Linked DNA regions of Homo sapiens: region 2 is linked to region 1. The links come from fine-mapping of genetic effects on gene expression. A gene starts in region 1. The other region holds a variant in brackets. All regions are shown on one strand. Distances are between the middles of the regions. Region 1 holds the start of RASGRF2 (Ras protein specific guanine nucleotide releasing factor 2). Region 2 holds the start of LOC124901017 (a long non-coding RNA gene).

Evidence for each region. PIP is the estimated chance that this variant, and not a neighbour inherited with it, causes the effect.
Region 2: its variant is fine-mapped to the expression of RASGRF2 in whole blood (TOPMed, PIP 0.96).

Annotation. Positions count from the first base shown.
Region 1 is chr5:80,955,723-80,964,055 of GRCh38, reverse strand. It overlaps RASGRF2 (Ras protein specific guanine nucleotide releasing factor 2), which reads right to left and starts at 3,693. Exons shown (of 27, transcript NM_006909.3): 1 at 3,030-3,693. The coding sequence starts at 3,317. RASGRF2-AS1 (RASGRF2 antisense RNA 1) reads left to right here and starts at 3,149. Exons shown (of 4, transcript NR_105015.1): 1 at 3,149-3,275. RefSeq lists enhancers at 2,869-3,590, 6,681-7,201.
Region 2 is chr5:81,203,835-81,212,167 of GRCh38, reverse strand. It overlaps RASGRF2 (Ras protein specific guanine nucleotide releasing factor 2), which reads right to left. Exons shown (of 27, transcript NM_006909.3): 20 at 5,263-5,323; 21 at 4,819-4,922; 22 at 3,730-3,814. It overlaps LOC124901017 (a long non-coding RNA gene), which reads left to right and starts at 1,230. Exons shown (of 2, transcript XR_007058842.1): 1 at 1,230-2,109; 2 at 2,758-5,957. The variant A/G (reference allele first, on the strand shown) is at 4,420.

The DNA of each region.
Region 1 (8,333 bases):
CTTTTTTCTGCTTAACTGGAAACAATTTAAGTCCAAGTGTAAAAAAAAAAAAAAAACGGATTTTTTTGTTGTTGTCAACCAACTTATTTTGAATTGTTATTTACAGGAAGCAAACCAATGGGTGTTTTCTTCTTGTAACTTACCTAAAAACACAACTAATAAGCATAAAAATCATTGAAGGATATGTGGACTTTAAGCTCCCAAGAATGCTTAGAGGCAGTTTATAGCAATAATTACATCAACTATTGTAACTGTCAAGGGGATTACAATAAATATGTCGCCCTCCAATGTGAGTAATAAGAATGTCTCTGCCTCAGGCAATGATGTTACTATAGGTTTGCACATCTGCTGACCTAACTAATTTATCAGAATGTCCACTTCAATCACCTGCTTGTCCTCGGCTTTTCAGATGCAGTATTTATTACAAACACTGGTAATCTCTGAATCTTGTGAAATGGTCTTTCACATTCTCCACACTGCAAAAAGCTCACCCTGTCTGTCATAACCTTAGAAATAGAAGATGCCATTATTGAAAGGTAATTGGAAACCAACTTAGCCAAATTCTTAATTTTTACATATTAGGAAACAGAGATTTCATTAACAGAAAAAAAGAGAAAAGATTAAGAGATGTGCTTAAAGAAATAACACGGAAACTTGGTGAAGAAAAATGACTCTGCCTCACTAAGTCCTGTTTCAAGCCCTAACCTTCAACTGTGTTGATAGTGTTGAGGGAGATATTGATATGGAAAGCTCCAGAAGCATATAAGGAGAAAGAAGCAAACCTTGGGATGTGCTCATCTCCTCACATCCTCCACAGATCCTTCGTGTCTCAGTGTCTGGATGATCTAAGCACCTCAGCAACATAAATTAGCTGAGAGGTAACCAACTGGATAAACTGTAGATTTAAGGTAGAATGTTTCTCCTTGTTTCTTATTTTCACAGTTTCTTCTTAATTATTCAAACACACCCAGTTGGCAGTGCCAGAGAAAAGCATCAGTGGGCTAAGCTAACCCAACTCACAGCAGCACATCTAATGCAAGACAAAATGTGGAAGGTTTCCCAGCCCAACTCCTAATCCATTCTGGAATGCTTGCTTCTCTACATCTCAGATTTATCTACAAACACCAAAGATTCTAATTTCTAACCTCTTGAAGATGAATAAAATGACTGAGAAATACTCATCATTTGCATGGTCATAAAAAGGGAAAACAATTTTTTCATTAGATGGCCTATTTAGGACAACCATTAGAAAGTGGCATGAAAGTCAAACTATTTGGAAGTTATGTTTCCTTATTAAAGTGCAAGAAAGAAAACAGTCTTGAAGATTACAGTCCAGATATTTTCCAAGTAGAAAAATGTTGGTTTCCATATAACATTAGCAAGTCAGAGAGCCATATGAATTGTAACAGGTAACAACTCCCCACCCCTAACTGAAAAAAAAAAAATCAAAAGTGGTTATCTTATATTAATATAAATATGAAGAAAACAAATAATTTGAGATTAAGTAAATGATATATATCCTGAGTAATTTAAAATACCCTATTCTACTTTAGACATAATAACATTTAGAAACCTATTCATTTTGGTTCCTGCGGGGCCTTGGAACACATACCTTAAAAAAAATCCCACCAATAGAATGTTACTTATATATATTCCTGAAAAAAAATGTTTCCTCAAAACTCTTCTCCCAATTTAAATTCTAAAATGCATGACTTGAAATTTATGTTTATATTTCTAGTATCTATATCTATAAAGTTGGAAATCAGTTTTTCAAATGACTCTGAACAAGCCCTCAGAAACTAAAGAGCATATTTAAACTTTCAGATTTATAAGTGTTATAACAAGTTTAATCACTTAAGTCTGTTAATGATTTATAGTGAAAACAACTCAAACTTCCGGTCGGTCTAGTTTTAACTCCTCTTAATTTTACACATTGTTTTATGAGCCCCAAAGGGTTAGGTAGGCATCTTACGGATCACTCCATTGCTAGCACCTCCCACAGCCTCTGTGGTGTGCGGTAGATGCTGTCTGATCTGAACTCACATGGAAAATTCAGCTGCGAATATTTTTACGCAACAGCAAAAACAATCAGCCTTTTTCATATCAAGGTGGGGATTGAGAAGCTAAATGAGAACATTAGGGGCATAAAATTAGTCTGCTTTAACTTTAATAACCAAACGGTGATTGGAAACATACAAACTTTGTGTTTGCAGGAATGAGGGGCTGGGATCACTAAGACTTAAAGGGTTTTTCTCCCCCACCCCGCGACCATGAGCACACAGCAAAACTAATAAAATTATGACCCAGAATTAAAAGGTCGCATTCATTTTCAAAGCATTCATTTAAAAGTACAGAAGCGTTCTTTAAAAATGCCCACATTTTTAAACATAGCAAGAATGTGGCTACCAAATATTAATCCTGAGGAATATGAATACACATTTACCTTCATAATTACACCCAGCAGGTCAAATGTTAGCAAGGCCAACTGACCGAAATCACAAAGACTGATTGAAAATGACCAACAGAAAGTGTCTGTCCGGCTTGGGAGCCCCGCTTGTTCCCAGCCCAACCAGTGGTCAAACATCTGCAGGCAAAGAAATCTACACGCGCCAGCCGGGTATGGCAGAAATCAAACTTTTCCAAATAAGTTAGTTCCGTCTTGCCAATCTACACCCAACAGGTGTCAATACATGTCACCAGACAAAAATCTGGCGAGCCAGGTCTAGAGAAGCAATAGATGGTTGGCAGAGAAGCTGAAACGACTCGACCTCTACCAGGGTAATGAAAGCAAGTCGGGCCACTATTCTGACTGATCACTTGGCAGTGGGGTGGAGGGGTATGGAGATGGGAGAATCCCTGGATGAAGATCGGAAGGAGCGTGGAGATGTCCCGCCACTGGTGACGCGGGGGGATTTCGGAGCATAGTCCCCGCACTCTTTCACGACCCCCGACCCCTGATCCCCGGATTAGGACGGCAAGGGAGTGCGGCGATCAAGGCTGGGAGACCGCGGAGAGAAGGCGCGCGGTACCTGCTTGTCCAGCGCGTCTCGGACGCCTCCCTGCCCGGCGCCGGCCCTGGGTGGCGCGGGCGTTCGTTCGCAGCTGCAGCCCTCCAGGAGGTACATGCCCGCCGGGCGGCAGCTCTGCTCGCCCTCGAAGTAGAAGAGCACATTCTGGTAGAGGGCGAACCACTTCTCGTGCCAGCGGCTCGCCTCGGCCGTCTTCTTACTCAGGAAGCCGCGCTTGGTGCCCTCCTTGCGCGCCAGAAAGGCCAGGTACAGGGCGTGCCCCTCGTTGTAGCGCACGCTCTTCTGCATGGTGCGGGTGCGGAGGGCTCACGGGTGGCCGCCGGTCTCACCCCTGCCTCGCGGCCATGGCCCAGCTGGCTCCCTCGAGGGCGCGACCGCTCAGGTCCCGGCCGGCGAAGGGCGCCCCCTTTCCCCACGCCGCGCGCAGGGCACCCCGCCCGCTTTCGGGAGGCCGCGGCGCGCGGTGGCAGGGGCGCGGGCTGGGGCCGAGGCACGCTCTCCGCCCTAACCACCACCCTCCCGGCCGAGCCCCCGGAGCCCCCCAAGCCCCCAACGCCCGCGTGGAGCGCGGCCCCGCGAGGGCGCCCGAGCCGGCCGCCGCTTCGCCCAAAGTTGCGGGAGCCGAGCCCCCGCGGCGGGCTGGGGCGGCAGCCGGGGAAGGACTGTCCTCGGGCAACGCGCTCCGGGAGACAGAAGGTAAAACGTCACGTGGGAGCTCAGCTGTAATCGGCTTGGAGACCGATTTAAAGGGCAAAGTCGGCGCGGCGCCGGCGGTGGCGCAGCCCGCTTGCCCCGGCTCGCGTCCCTCCCTCGCCCGCCCCGGCCCGGGCCGCTGCCTCTGCTCGGGCGCCCGCCGGGATGGGGCGGATCAGGGAGGTGGAGGCGCCCGGCCGCACCACACACCCGCTCACACGCGCTCGCACACTCGCGCACAACGCGCGCACACACACACGCACACCCACACACACGCAGACCAGTACATTCACCCAGATCCACAATGCACACACTCAGACGCACAAAAATACACTCACAAATGCACACAAACACAATGCGCGCACATATGCACAAAAACACACGCGCACACACTCATGACACACAAATACACATTCTCACAACGCTCACACTCAACACACAGTCACAACGCACAAATGCATATAGACAAATACACCCACAATGTGCGTTCCCGCGCACAAAAATAAAACCCACATTCAGATACACACTTAAGGAGCTACACACATGCACGCAGTGATATGCTCACTTACACACACATTCACACACAACCCACACATTCACTCAAACCCACATTCAAACATACATTCATACACACATTACACTCATACAGTCACACAAACAGCACACATATACTCACACGTTCACAATCATACAGACTCATAAGCAGATAATCAAACACACACACAGATGAACACACATGTACATTCACAAATTCATCCAAAAATACACACAAAGCACTCACACACGTATTCGCACGAATCCACACACTTTCACAAACCCACTCACACATACACACACACTCACATGCCACATCCATAAGTACGTTCCCATGGCAGTAGGTAGAGTCACAGAGTGGCTTTGCATAGCCCGCATCCTTGGCTTTTCTGCTTGTACCTGCATTGTAGTATTTAAAACTGCCGGTAAAGGTTAAGGAGAGTGGCCCAAGTGTTCCCGGAAAGGCATCAGATGCCGAAGTTCTTTCGGAATGCCTGTTATTTCACAGTGGTAAGATGCTAAATTTTAAGTGCCGAGTTTTCAACCTGGAAAAAAATACCCAAATAAGGGACACTTTGCTGCCCAGGGCAGAATCCAACCCCAAAGGCCAGCTGTCACAGGCTCATCGTTTGTAGGACTGGATTCATTTGATTAACAAATCTGACAGGTACAACCAGAAAACCAAGAGCCACCCCCCCGCCCCAACCCCATGCTGTAAAAATGTAAGTGGAAAAGAAATAATGTAGCCAGCAGCTGTGAGAGAAAGCCAGTGAAACCCCCGGGGAGGGCCTATATTTGATTCTGCTATACACATTTTTTATTTTCCCCAGTCATTTATCACTAAAACGGAGTGCCATCATAAAATGTTTATTGTTAAAAGTAAATAATAATGCTTTTCTGGGTGATGAGTCTACGACAATACACCTGTCTTGTACTGCCAGTTGTGTGTTCATGAATTGGTAGCCCCAGGGGTTCTGCCTGTTTCATAAGTGCTGTTTCTGCAGAATATTTTAACTCTGCCTCACTGAGCAGCTGAGTGGGGTTTTTTTTTCCTTTTACCTTTTTAAAAAATTTTCACTTTTAACAAGTATATAGTAGGGAAATTGCCATTTTGAAATTACAGCGTGAGAACAGTGGTCATTTCTCTTTACGTTTTTAAAAATATCTAAAGGACAGTGCTGTGCTAAATTGGGTTTAACCCAGCTGGAAGTTTGCATTGTTCTTCAGAGAAGACACAAGTACAGAGACAGTAAGTAAATGCAGGCAACATTTTGGAGCCAGATTCTAGATGCAGAGGAGCTGGTGATTGCCTCAGGAGGCCTTTTATTTCTTTCTCTGTGGTCCAATCCCAGCTGTGAGAACCGTAAGTGAGTAGACACCTGTGTGGTTGATAAGCTCCATTTTTTTAGTAGAAACCAGTAAGAGTGTGAAATCAGCACAAAAACTATTTTGCCATGAGTAGTCAAACCTTCTAACGCACTTGAGTTTTTTCAGATGTGAAAGATTCTCTTCTTCAATAAGCAATGTCTCAGTTACCATCTCTGTCTCCTTAAATGTGCTTTTCATTTGAACCACATGAAATATTCACAACCTCTTGTCTGACATCACTTCCTACCACGGAAGGTTATGTGGCCCTTATATGCCACCCCATCTGCTCTGCCCCTGGACAATGAGAGAAAGGAGTGCTTGTTTCCTGCAAAATTTGGCTGGTGATTACCGTGGGTTTTGATTATGGAAATTCACTGCAAGAACCATTTATTGATCACTAGTTTATGTCCTCAACACTATATTTAGGTGATGTAGAGCATATAGAGAAAAAGCATTGCCTGTGTTCCTGGTGTGCTCAGTGTAAGAGGAAGAGAATTTCTTTCTTTCTTCTTTTCTTTCCCTTCCTCCCTCCCTCTCTCTCTCTCTCTCTCTCTCTCTCTCTCTCTCTGTCTCTTTCTCTCTCTCTTTCTTTCTTTTTTTCTTTAGAGAGAGGTTCTTCCTCTGTTGCCCAGGCTGAAGTCATAGCTCACTGCAGCCTCAAACTCCTGGGCTCCAGCAATCCTCCTGCCTCAGCCTCCAGCGTAGCTAAGACTATGGGTGTGCACTACCACACCTGGTTAGGTTTTGTTTACTTTTTGTAGAGACAGAGGTCTCACCATGTTACCCAGGCTGGTCTCAAACTCCTGGTCTCAAGTAACCCTCCTGCCTTGGCCTCCCAAAGTCCTGGGATTGTAAGTACGACACCACCCAGCCAGGAAGAAGATTAATGTTTAGGTGCTTCTTCTCACCTGTCTGTTTCTCAAGTGCCGAGCTATCTCTGTAATCCCTGTAGCACCCAGTAGGAGAGTTTATATGCAGTAGGCATACAAGTTTTTCAGACAATTATTTTCTAAATTAATTTCTTATTTGGTCATTGAATTGTTAAAGAGGGCATAAGCATTTGCAAATATTAGATCATTCTGCAAGATTGTAAGAGATGAAAACAACCAGACATTCCTGGACAGCCTAGAGAAGCTATCTCTATTAGGTGTCTGATGGGCACCTGGGGGCCTTTAGTCTCCATTCATATGGAAACCACATCCCTGGAATGGTGCCATCCTGAAACACAAAGGATCAGGAGTTTATGTAAATAAGAATGCTTTCCCCCAGCTGATCAAATAGATTGCCAAAAAGAGACTGCGTTCCAAGTGGATGGGAACAAGCTTCTCTGAATTCATTGTTTTTCCTTCTTGCATTGCGTGGATTCTTTCTTGAGCGGGCCAGTTTAAAAAAATTTTTTATGGGCAACAAAGCATATGATCACAGTGCAAGTGGCCTCTTTCCCCTTTTCTAGATAAGTTAAGAGGGGAAAAATAGCAATGAGCTGTCATACCTGGAAACTCTACTAAATAGAGAGGGAGACATTATTCAGATAATTTGATGAGAAAAGGAAGGAAGGGAGGGAAGGAGGGAAAGAGGAAAGAAAGGACGGAAGGAGGGAGGAAGGAAAGGTGGGAGGGGAAATTTTATCTGAATTGTCTAAAGCTTTGAAGTTTAGGGGAGTGGGGAGTGCACAACCTAACCTACAGCTTTTCAAAATCCCTAACTCATGCCTTAGTATTCAGATGCACAAGGTAGGTTTTAATTTTTTTTTTCTTTCTCCTAAACTCTGTTTTGTTAGTAAAATGTACATGGGCTGCATGAGTTTCTGCAAGGACTTTTCCCTGTGGTTTCTATAATTCAGAAATGCATCCGCACTGGGTTCTTGGAGGAAGATTATGTCAAGCAAAGCTGTCAGAGGCATTTGAACCAAAGCAACTCCATCTTAAATAGGAGCCGGGTAAAATGAGGCTGAAACCTACTGGGCTGCATTCCCAGACGGTTAAGGCATTCTAAGTCACGGGATGAGATAGGAGGTCAGCACAAAATACAGGTCACAAAGACCTTGCTGGTAAAACAGCTTGCAGTAAAGGAGCCACCAAAACCAAAATGGCAACGAGAGTGACTTTGGTCGTCCTCACTGCTACGCTCCCACCAGCACCATGACAGTTTACAAATGCCATGGCAATGTCAGGAAGTTACCCAGTGTGGTCTAAAAAGGGGAGGCATAAATAATCCACCCCTTGTTTAGCGTGTCATCAAAAAATAACCATAAAAATGGGCAACTAGCAGCCCTCGGGACTGCTCCGTCTATGGAGTAGCCATTCTTTTATTCCTTTATTTTCTTAAACTTGCTTTCACTTTGCACTTCGGACTCGCCCTGAATTCTTTCTTGTGAGAGATCCAAGAATCCTTTCTTGGGGTCTGGATTGGGACCGCTTTCCTGTAACAAAGCCACAGTATTGCCAAGATCCTTTTCTTAGCCTGACAGAAGATCACTTGGGGAATTGTCATTTTGATGGCTTGTAGATGTGGAGAATAATATATTTAATAATGCAGACTCACCAAGAATCCCAGACTGTTTCTACAGGATAGAGTGCTACCAGTTCTGGCACATATGTGATTCTGTATCATCTCTTGATACTTAATTAGTAAAGCCAGGTTCTTCCCCAAGTAGGTAAAACCCAAAAGGATTATTCCTTCCTTGTTTCCAGTATTATTTTGACCAAA
Region 2 (8,333 bases), 250 kb before region 1:
TGAGTGAACACAGGGGTTATCTGGATTCCCGCTTGTTGAGGGAAGAGATGATTTTGTTCCTCAGCAATTTTGATGGTGTCATTTCTAATAATTACTGAGGAAATGGGACAGAATAACCTAACGCCTGCGGAAAGGCAATGTCTGTAGATCATGGATGTCACTCCCTGGGGCCTTTCCCTTTACTCCTTGGCCCCCAACAGTGTGTGATTACTCACTCTGAGAAGCCACAGTTATCACAGAGAAAGAAAAAAACACTTGCCCCCAGTTAGATCAAATTCTGAGCTGATTAACTCTCAAACCAGAATCACTTGGCTGCAAGGAAAAGAACATTTTCTTCATCTTATTCTTCACCAGCAGTTAAAAGGACCTATAGTTTTGAGGCTAAGTACCGTAATTTTATTACTTAAAGCCAGTTTAAGAAGCTCAGCTCTTGTAATATGGAGAGGAAAAAAAAAGTGAAATGAGATTACCGTATTAACAAAGGGAATATAGGGCGTGTAATCTTATATCCATACACCAAGTCTGATGGATTCACCCATTCTTTGATGATTCTGAAGACACTTAAGATCTCATAGTGCCTCAACACCATCACTGTGGAAATTCGCTAAAGCACCTACTGCAGTGCTGTTCACTGAGTGCCTGCGCATCCTTAGCGTGAGGAGAGGAATTATTTGGAATCCAGTTTGTCCTGGGAAGAAGTGGTTTTGTTAATCAGTAATTTCGATGAAGAAGTTCTTGCCAATAACTATTGAGGAAATGGGATAGAATAGATTCTTTTAGGTGCTGGGAACAGAAAGACAAATAAATCCATCCCTGACCTTAAGGCAATCTGAGCCTAGGTAGGTGGGAAGGGGAGGGTCGCAGATACATAAACAGGTAAATGCCATGCAGCGAAACACAAAGTTGAGTCTATTCACGGTGGGGTTTGGGAATACACAGGCAGCATGGGGCATCTGGTCTAGTACAGAGGAGGCTTCTAGGAAGAGGTCACGCCTGCACTGAGTCTTTTTTTTTTTTTTTTCTGGAGACAGGATCTTGCTCTATTGCCCCAGGTGGAATACAGTGGCATGATTACAGCTCACCGGAGCCTCGATGTCCAGGGCTCAAGCGATCCTCTCACCTCAGCCTCCCAAGTAGCTGGGACCACAGGTGTGCACTACCATGCCTGGCTAATTTTTTGTATTTATAAAGACAGGGTCTCACTATGTTGCCCAGGCTGGTCTTGAACTCCTGGGCTAAAGCAATCCTCCCAGCTCGGCCTCCCAAAGTGCTGGGATTACAGGTGTGAGCTACAGTCTCCAGCCTTGCATTGAGTCTTAAAGGATCTAAGTATGAGAGCAAGGGGACAGAGGTGGGAGGGATGGTGTAATGGAGGACCTGGCAGCCATCTGAGGGGCACAAGGACTGGGAGAGGCAAGGGTGACAGATGGGCTGTGCTCTTGTATGACAGGTTGGGACCATATCCCTAAGGTAAGGGGAAGCCACTGACAGATTTTTGTCAAAGGGAGGTAGATAATTAGATTGACCTTTCAGAGAAGTCATTCCTGTGCCACTGCATGCAGGATGGTTTAAGGTACATGGCTGTGCTTTGGTCTAGGATAGGCCAAGGTGGACATCCGGGCCAGAGGGACTCAGTGAGTTTAGAGCACAGGTGTATAACTCCACTTGTGATCACAGCCATGTAGCCATAACACGGAAGGCCATCACTTGGCTCTAAGCCACTATTGTCTGTAAAAGGTATAATTGCCCTGTTGACACTGTACAGGAGCTCATGCCCAGAGAAAGAGTTAAGCTGCTGACCCTGAAGGCAAGTGAGAGCTGGCCACACAGCTGTGCGCGGGAGCGACTGGCTCAAGCAGCTGAGACAGAAGAGACAGCGTAAGAGAGCTGCTGATGAAAGAGCTGCTAATGAGACAGCTGCTGATGAGAGCGCCCGCTGAACAAAATCATCTTTCACCTACCTACGGCCCCCTACGTGTTCTTTCAGGCATCCACCCACTCCCCTCAGACCTCAGCATGGGCTGGAACCTGACTCTGAACCTAACAGATGGATTGGAGGGCAGTGAGGTTGCAGGGGAGAGATGAGTCAGGAGCTCCTGGAGAGACAAGGTAAAAGGCCACATCAAGGTGGTGGCAGCGGGGAAGGCAGGGTGGGGAAGAGCCTGAGATATATGTAGATTTAGAGTTTGCAAATATGTTGGGCAGTGGTAAGGGTGAGCTGGTAAGGGAGAAGATGACGTCTAGATCCTGTGCTTGGGTGAGTGAGTGTATGGTGAGGCCACTACCCAAGACTGAGAACAGAGAGGACAATGAAGAAGCAGGCTTGGCGGCTCTGGGGTGCAGATGAAAGGTTCCATCTGTAATTGTCAAGAATGCAATGTAGCAGTCGTCCCAGCAGAGGAGACATGTGGGTCTGGAGCCTGGGATCGAACCTCTCTTTGAGTGTCCATTATATCCCCTGTGTTGGTTCACCACAGGTAACAGAGGTTTGCTTCCCACAGCAGGGAATCTGTTTCTCAGGGCAGGCACTAGATGGGCCATGCCCTTGTCCTTTAGGCAGCAGCGGCACTGAAGCTCATTGTGTGGTAGCATTCACACAGCATCCACGTGCTTTGGGGAAAGCCTGCATGAAACACTGTCTTGGGAATCTAAACTGTCATTTTTGCATTTTGATTCTAGATCACTTATTAATTTACCTATGGGGTTCCTGGTAGTTTGTTGTTGTTGTTTTTAAAATCGTTATTCCTTTTACTATAGTTTAGTGAAACTGGAAGGGGAGGCTTCCCGTTGCCTGGATAGGCCAGAAGACACTCCCACACCTGTTACTTGTTCTACCACAGGACTAAGACTATGAGAACAGCACTAAGGAAGAGCGGGGAGGTATAAAAGCATCTCCCAATCTTACCGCTGGGGAAAAGCAGAGCTGTAAGATGGACTGACAGCTGGCCACTGCTGCACAGAACTATAGCAACAATGTGATTATGCTCCAAGAGGCCCCTTCCAACCCTGGAATGTAATTCAGGCTGAACGTTCAGTAATGATGAGGACTTGCACCAACCCAGCCTTACCGTGACCAACACCACCAGGGGCCAGTGACACATGTACTGCTCACTCTGTTAGTCAATATATGAACAGGAAGTAGTGATAATCATGATAAAAATAGGATCAGCAACCTGTACATTATTGAGCACTGGGTACCATCAAAGGTGAACCTTTTATGTCAGGAAGTTAATTGGACATTATTACATTACTGTGAGCTCTTAGAGATTTAAGCTTGTCGTCAATATCCCATCAATTCTGTTTAAAAGTGGGTGGCAGGCCAGGTGCGGTGGCTCACGCCTGTAATCCCAACACTTTGGGAGGCTGAGGCAGGCAGATTGCCTGAGGTCAGGAGTTCGAGACCAGTCTGGCCGACATGGTGAAACCCCTTTACTAAAAATACAAAAATATTAGCCAGGCATGATGGCATGCACCTGTAATCCCAGCTACTCGGGAGGCTGAGGCAGGGGAATTGCTTGAACCAGGGAGGTGGAGGTTGCAGTGAGCTGAGATCACGCCATTGCACTCCAGCCTGGGCGACAGAGCGAGACTCTGTCTCAAAAAAAAAAAAAAAAAAAAAAAAAAAAAAAAAAAGTGGGTGACAGAGTTGCTTTGTTTTAGAGGAGTCTTTAGACCCCAATATCCATCTTCTTGTGACACGCCCACGGTTTTACTGTTACGGTTACTCACGTCATTGAAGTGTTGGCTGGTTTTCATAATGTAAGGAGTTCTTTCGTTTTTATCCAGCTTCATCCACCCCTGCCCAAGAAACTCCCTGGAAGTTCAAAACAAAACACAAAACCAATTAAGTTTTTAAAAATATGGTGGCTATGATCCTGGACAGTTGTCACGAATATTAGAAAAATTCCATTTGACATGGCCTAGAATGGTTCCTGACACCTGCTGCTGCCAGCCTCACAAGTGAATTTTACCTCGGCTGTTGCAGTTTACCTCTCAATGCCAAAAAGGAAGATTCTTCAGCTTCCAGCTTTCTCTTATAAATGTTTGGAACTGTGTCCCTATTAGGATCCTATAAAGCCTTCTCTGAAGTTGGAAAACAAGAACCAACACAAGGGAAATAAAGAGGTTAAGTACTACCTTAGAAATCAAGACTATTTTCCCAGGATTAGCTTTTAAAAACATTAAGCCTTAGCAGAGGGTCCAAAAATTTCATCACTACCAAAAATGTTAGTCAGAAGCAGAATTTTCTCCCTCCACTCTGCGCTGCCTGCCATTCTCCTGGAGGATGCAGATTTCAAAGGCAGGGATTGCGTTTTGTTCTCCCCAGCGCTCAGGAGGGCGCAGGTGGTCAGGGCTGAAAAGCGCTCCTTTTAGGCTTGTACCGCATGTTGCCCTGACCAGGCAGTTCAGCGGGGCAGA[A/G]GCTCCACCTGGTCAGATGGGCTGTCTTCAGGGCAGCATTCCTGATCATTCACTTCATTCCTGAGCAGGTCACCAGACACAGCAAGAAACAAGGGACAAGTGAGATGCAGCATACAGGAATTATTTTGTATAGTCATTAAAAACACTCGAAATTACTCTGATACTCAGGTTGACTAAGTCCCTGGGCAGGGTTCTTTGTCCCTTGCTGTTGTTGGTCCTGCTCCCATCCTGCAGAGTGCTGGACACAGAGGCGTGCCAGTTCCATGGATGGAAACAACTGGTAGATACTCACACAGGAACTGAGGGGACAGACATACACACAACCTGCCTTAGGAATAATGTCAACTTCTAAGACAGCTAGAGCAGCCGAGCCCTGCTGCTGTGGGGGGTGGCACTCACTCGTAGGGAATGCTTCTGAAAATGACATGGTCCAGGAGGGTGATCTGTTCTGCCAGCTCCATGGCCGACAAGGACTCAAAGCATTCGGCCTTCATGCAGTCAGTCTGCAAGAGATGAGGGAGGGAAATGAAACACCCAGGAGAGGGCGCCTGCCATCTCATTGCAGGTCAGTGAGGCAGACAGCTGCATGTGTGGAAGCATGAAGTTCACCACTAAATTCTAACTATGAAAAAAATGGCAGAAAGCTAAAAGTATCAAAGCCAACATGAATATCTTAGACCAACTGCTAGACCCCACACCAAATGTGGTTCATCTCACAGAGCTTCACAGATAGGACAGAGGGCCTAATACTACAACACTCCTTGATCGGTTACAAGCATATTGCTCGCCTTGGAGAGGTAGTTTGCACATAGTTGTGCTAGATAAAAATGTGGTCAGACTTACCATTTGAATTATATCCTCTAATTTTAGGTGGATGTCATCTTGGTCATCTTGTGAAAGGGCCCTGAAAAAGATATCAAATTATCCTCCATGAAAGAAAAAATAGACAACCTAGGAACAAAACTACAAATGCAGTTTGGTTTTCCCTGGATGGGAGGTCTGAGGATTTGGGTCTACAAGGCCATGCAGCACAACCAACTGCTGAGCTGGAGATGAGCAATCCCCAAACAGAAAACATGCTCAAGGCATGAGAGAATCATCAGGACAGCTGATTTAGAACAAAAAGGCAACCTGTTACATACAAGGTTGTAAATGAAACAACCACCGTCACAGTGAGTCTGAGGGTGAGCTGGGTGAGCTCTGAGTTACCATCCATAATGTAAAATGGAGCATCCTCTAATGCTATCAGCCAGTTGGACTCCTAGGCCTGAGTGCCCTCCTCCCCACACCTCTATCCCCTACCGTGGGCTTTCCCTGCCCTCACAGAGGCAGGAGACGCAGGGCCACCCCTTTCTCAAGCTTACGTAGACCAGAAGCACAGGGGGTTCCTATGTGGCAAGACTCTGAACAATGCCAGGCAGGAGCCAGCAGATAGCTTCTTCCCCCTTGCATTCCAGATGGACTTTCCTCAGACACTTTTGGCCCTGAATCTCATACATGTTATTCAGCTCTCAATAAATATCTTTTAAAAAAATAAATGATGAATGAATGAATGAGTGAATGAATAAACACAAGTTAATACCTTAAATACTGGTTTCAGAGTAGAGGGTATTTTTGTGCAACAGACGTTCAGAGTCCAGGAAAACTGGAGTCCAGTAGGCATCCAATTACATAATTTGCCATTGGAGCCAGGCATTTTATGTTTTCCAAAAGGAAGGCACAAGCACATACTCAAAGCATTAAAATAGTAGGAGGGCAGATCATGAGGTCAGGAGATCGAGACCATCCTGGCTAACACGGTGAAACCCTGCCTCTACTAAAAATACAAAAAATTAGCTGGGCAGGTGGCGGGCACTTGTAGTCCCAGCTACTCGGGAGGCTGAGGCAGGAGAATGGCGTGAACCAAGGAGGCAGAGCTTGCAGTGAGCCGAGATAGCGCCACTGCACTCCAGCCTGGGCGACAGAGCAAGACTCAAGTCTCAAAAATAAATAAATAAAATAAAACAAAATAAAATAGTTAAACGGTCCCAAACCATGTACTCTGCTGGAGGAAGCTACTTTTAGTAAAAGGCGAAAGATTTATGCGATATGAAGAGAAACTAGAGTAAGAGGAAGCTACTTTTAAAAGAAGTAATGATGATGTGATGTTCTGTTGTGTTCTGAGTTGATTAAAACAACAGCCACAACCCTCAAAAACATAATATCAACAGAGATGGCTTCCTGTATGCCCGCTCTATGCCAGGCATGTGCTAAACATTTGACATGCACTATCTCCTGTATCCTAACAGATCCCTTCCAAGGGATTGTTATACAGGACAGCAGATAATGCAGGCATTGTGATCTCCGTTTTACAGATAAGGAAACAAAAGCTCAAAGACACTGACTAAGTTGCTCAGGGTTGTGGGCCCTTCCTTTACTCTGCGCTTCTCTTAAGCAGGCTCAGGGAAGGCACCTCTTCAAGGGTCCCACACACAGCACACAGTCAATAAACACAACTCCCTTCCCTCGGCTGTCTGAAGGGGGAGCAGGAGCCTTCTAGATTATACTAGTAGCAGCCCTCTTATCGGCACTTAGCCATATTATTTGTGAGTAGAAAGAAATAGTCATTTTATCTTAAAGGGCAGATTAAGATGAGGAAAAAATAAGTTAAAGCTAACTCTTTCTCCAAAGCCTATTAAATTACATGTAAGGGTTACACATGGGAGATAAAAGTGACTTTTCCGAAAGTGCACATCATCTTTTCCACCATTCTAGGTTCCTGGAGAGAGATCTGTGGCTCCATAATTATGTGTACCAGTGGGAAAGATCTTTTTATGAAGCTGGGTAATATCTTTCCCTTGGAAAGAAAAAGTCAAAAAGTTAGTTAGCTCCCATCAAATGTTCCTCTTCTCAATGATCTTACCCTCATTTTCCAAGAGGCACTCTGGTGCCATTAAGTTACCTAACATTTTATGCCTTCCTGTTGATGCTATGTGGGGTTTGAGGATGACTTTTCTATGACCTGAGCCCATCACAGTTGAACATCCAAGAAGTTAATCACTATTTCTTTTTATTTTGTGGCATGTTGGGTATCTAGAAAAACTCTACACTGAATAGATTTTGAAGACAGCTAGTTAGACAACTTTGGAGGAGGAGAGATGGTATTTTAGAAATATAAGTTTTGAGTACAGGTTTTTATTTACAAACAGGGCAACAAACTATATATGGCAATTAAGTGTATTCATCATACACTTAATTGTGACCCCTGTGAGACTGTGAGTCAGGGAGGCTTCATTCAAAAGAGCATTTGCTTTATTGCATTAATGTAACCTATGCATGAAAACATGTTTTATGTTCATATCTCTTAGATGTCAGGAATGCATATAAATCTCTAAATGTCAGGGCTGCACTTAACCACCATATGATATGTTTTTTATCTCTCACAGTCATAGCCTGTGTTTTCTAGAGGGCATGGTTCAGAATTCTTTCCCTTCAGATGTGGAGGCCTCTGCACTTCTGGTTCAGTTCCAATAGAGAAAAGATTTGCTTCTAGTCTTCTGGCGATGCTTGGGCATTGATGAACATTCCAGGATCCTGGGTTCCCCACCACCATCACTACCACGTCTATCAGCAGTATCACCAGTTTAATAATTGTGCATTTATAATGACACACCAAATAAAAGGAAATGGGATTATCCAAGCTGTATGAATAGAAAATTCCTCTTTCAATTAGGGTAGTCCAAAAACAGAGCCACAAGCAACCAGTGTCTGTCCTGGGATTGGTCCACACTGTCTTTGTGTGGAAAAGGTGACGAAGCCTAAAGAAAGTTGAGTTGACTAAGATCCAGCCTGGTTTCACTTGGGCCATATGGCCTTAACGGCAGAAACTACTTTTTCCAGGAACTACTGTCAGTGCTTCTAACAGTAATAATACT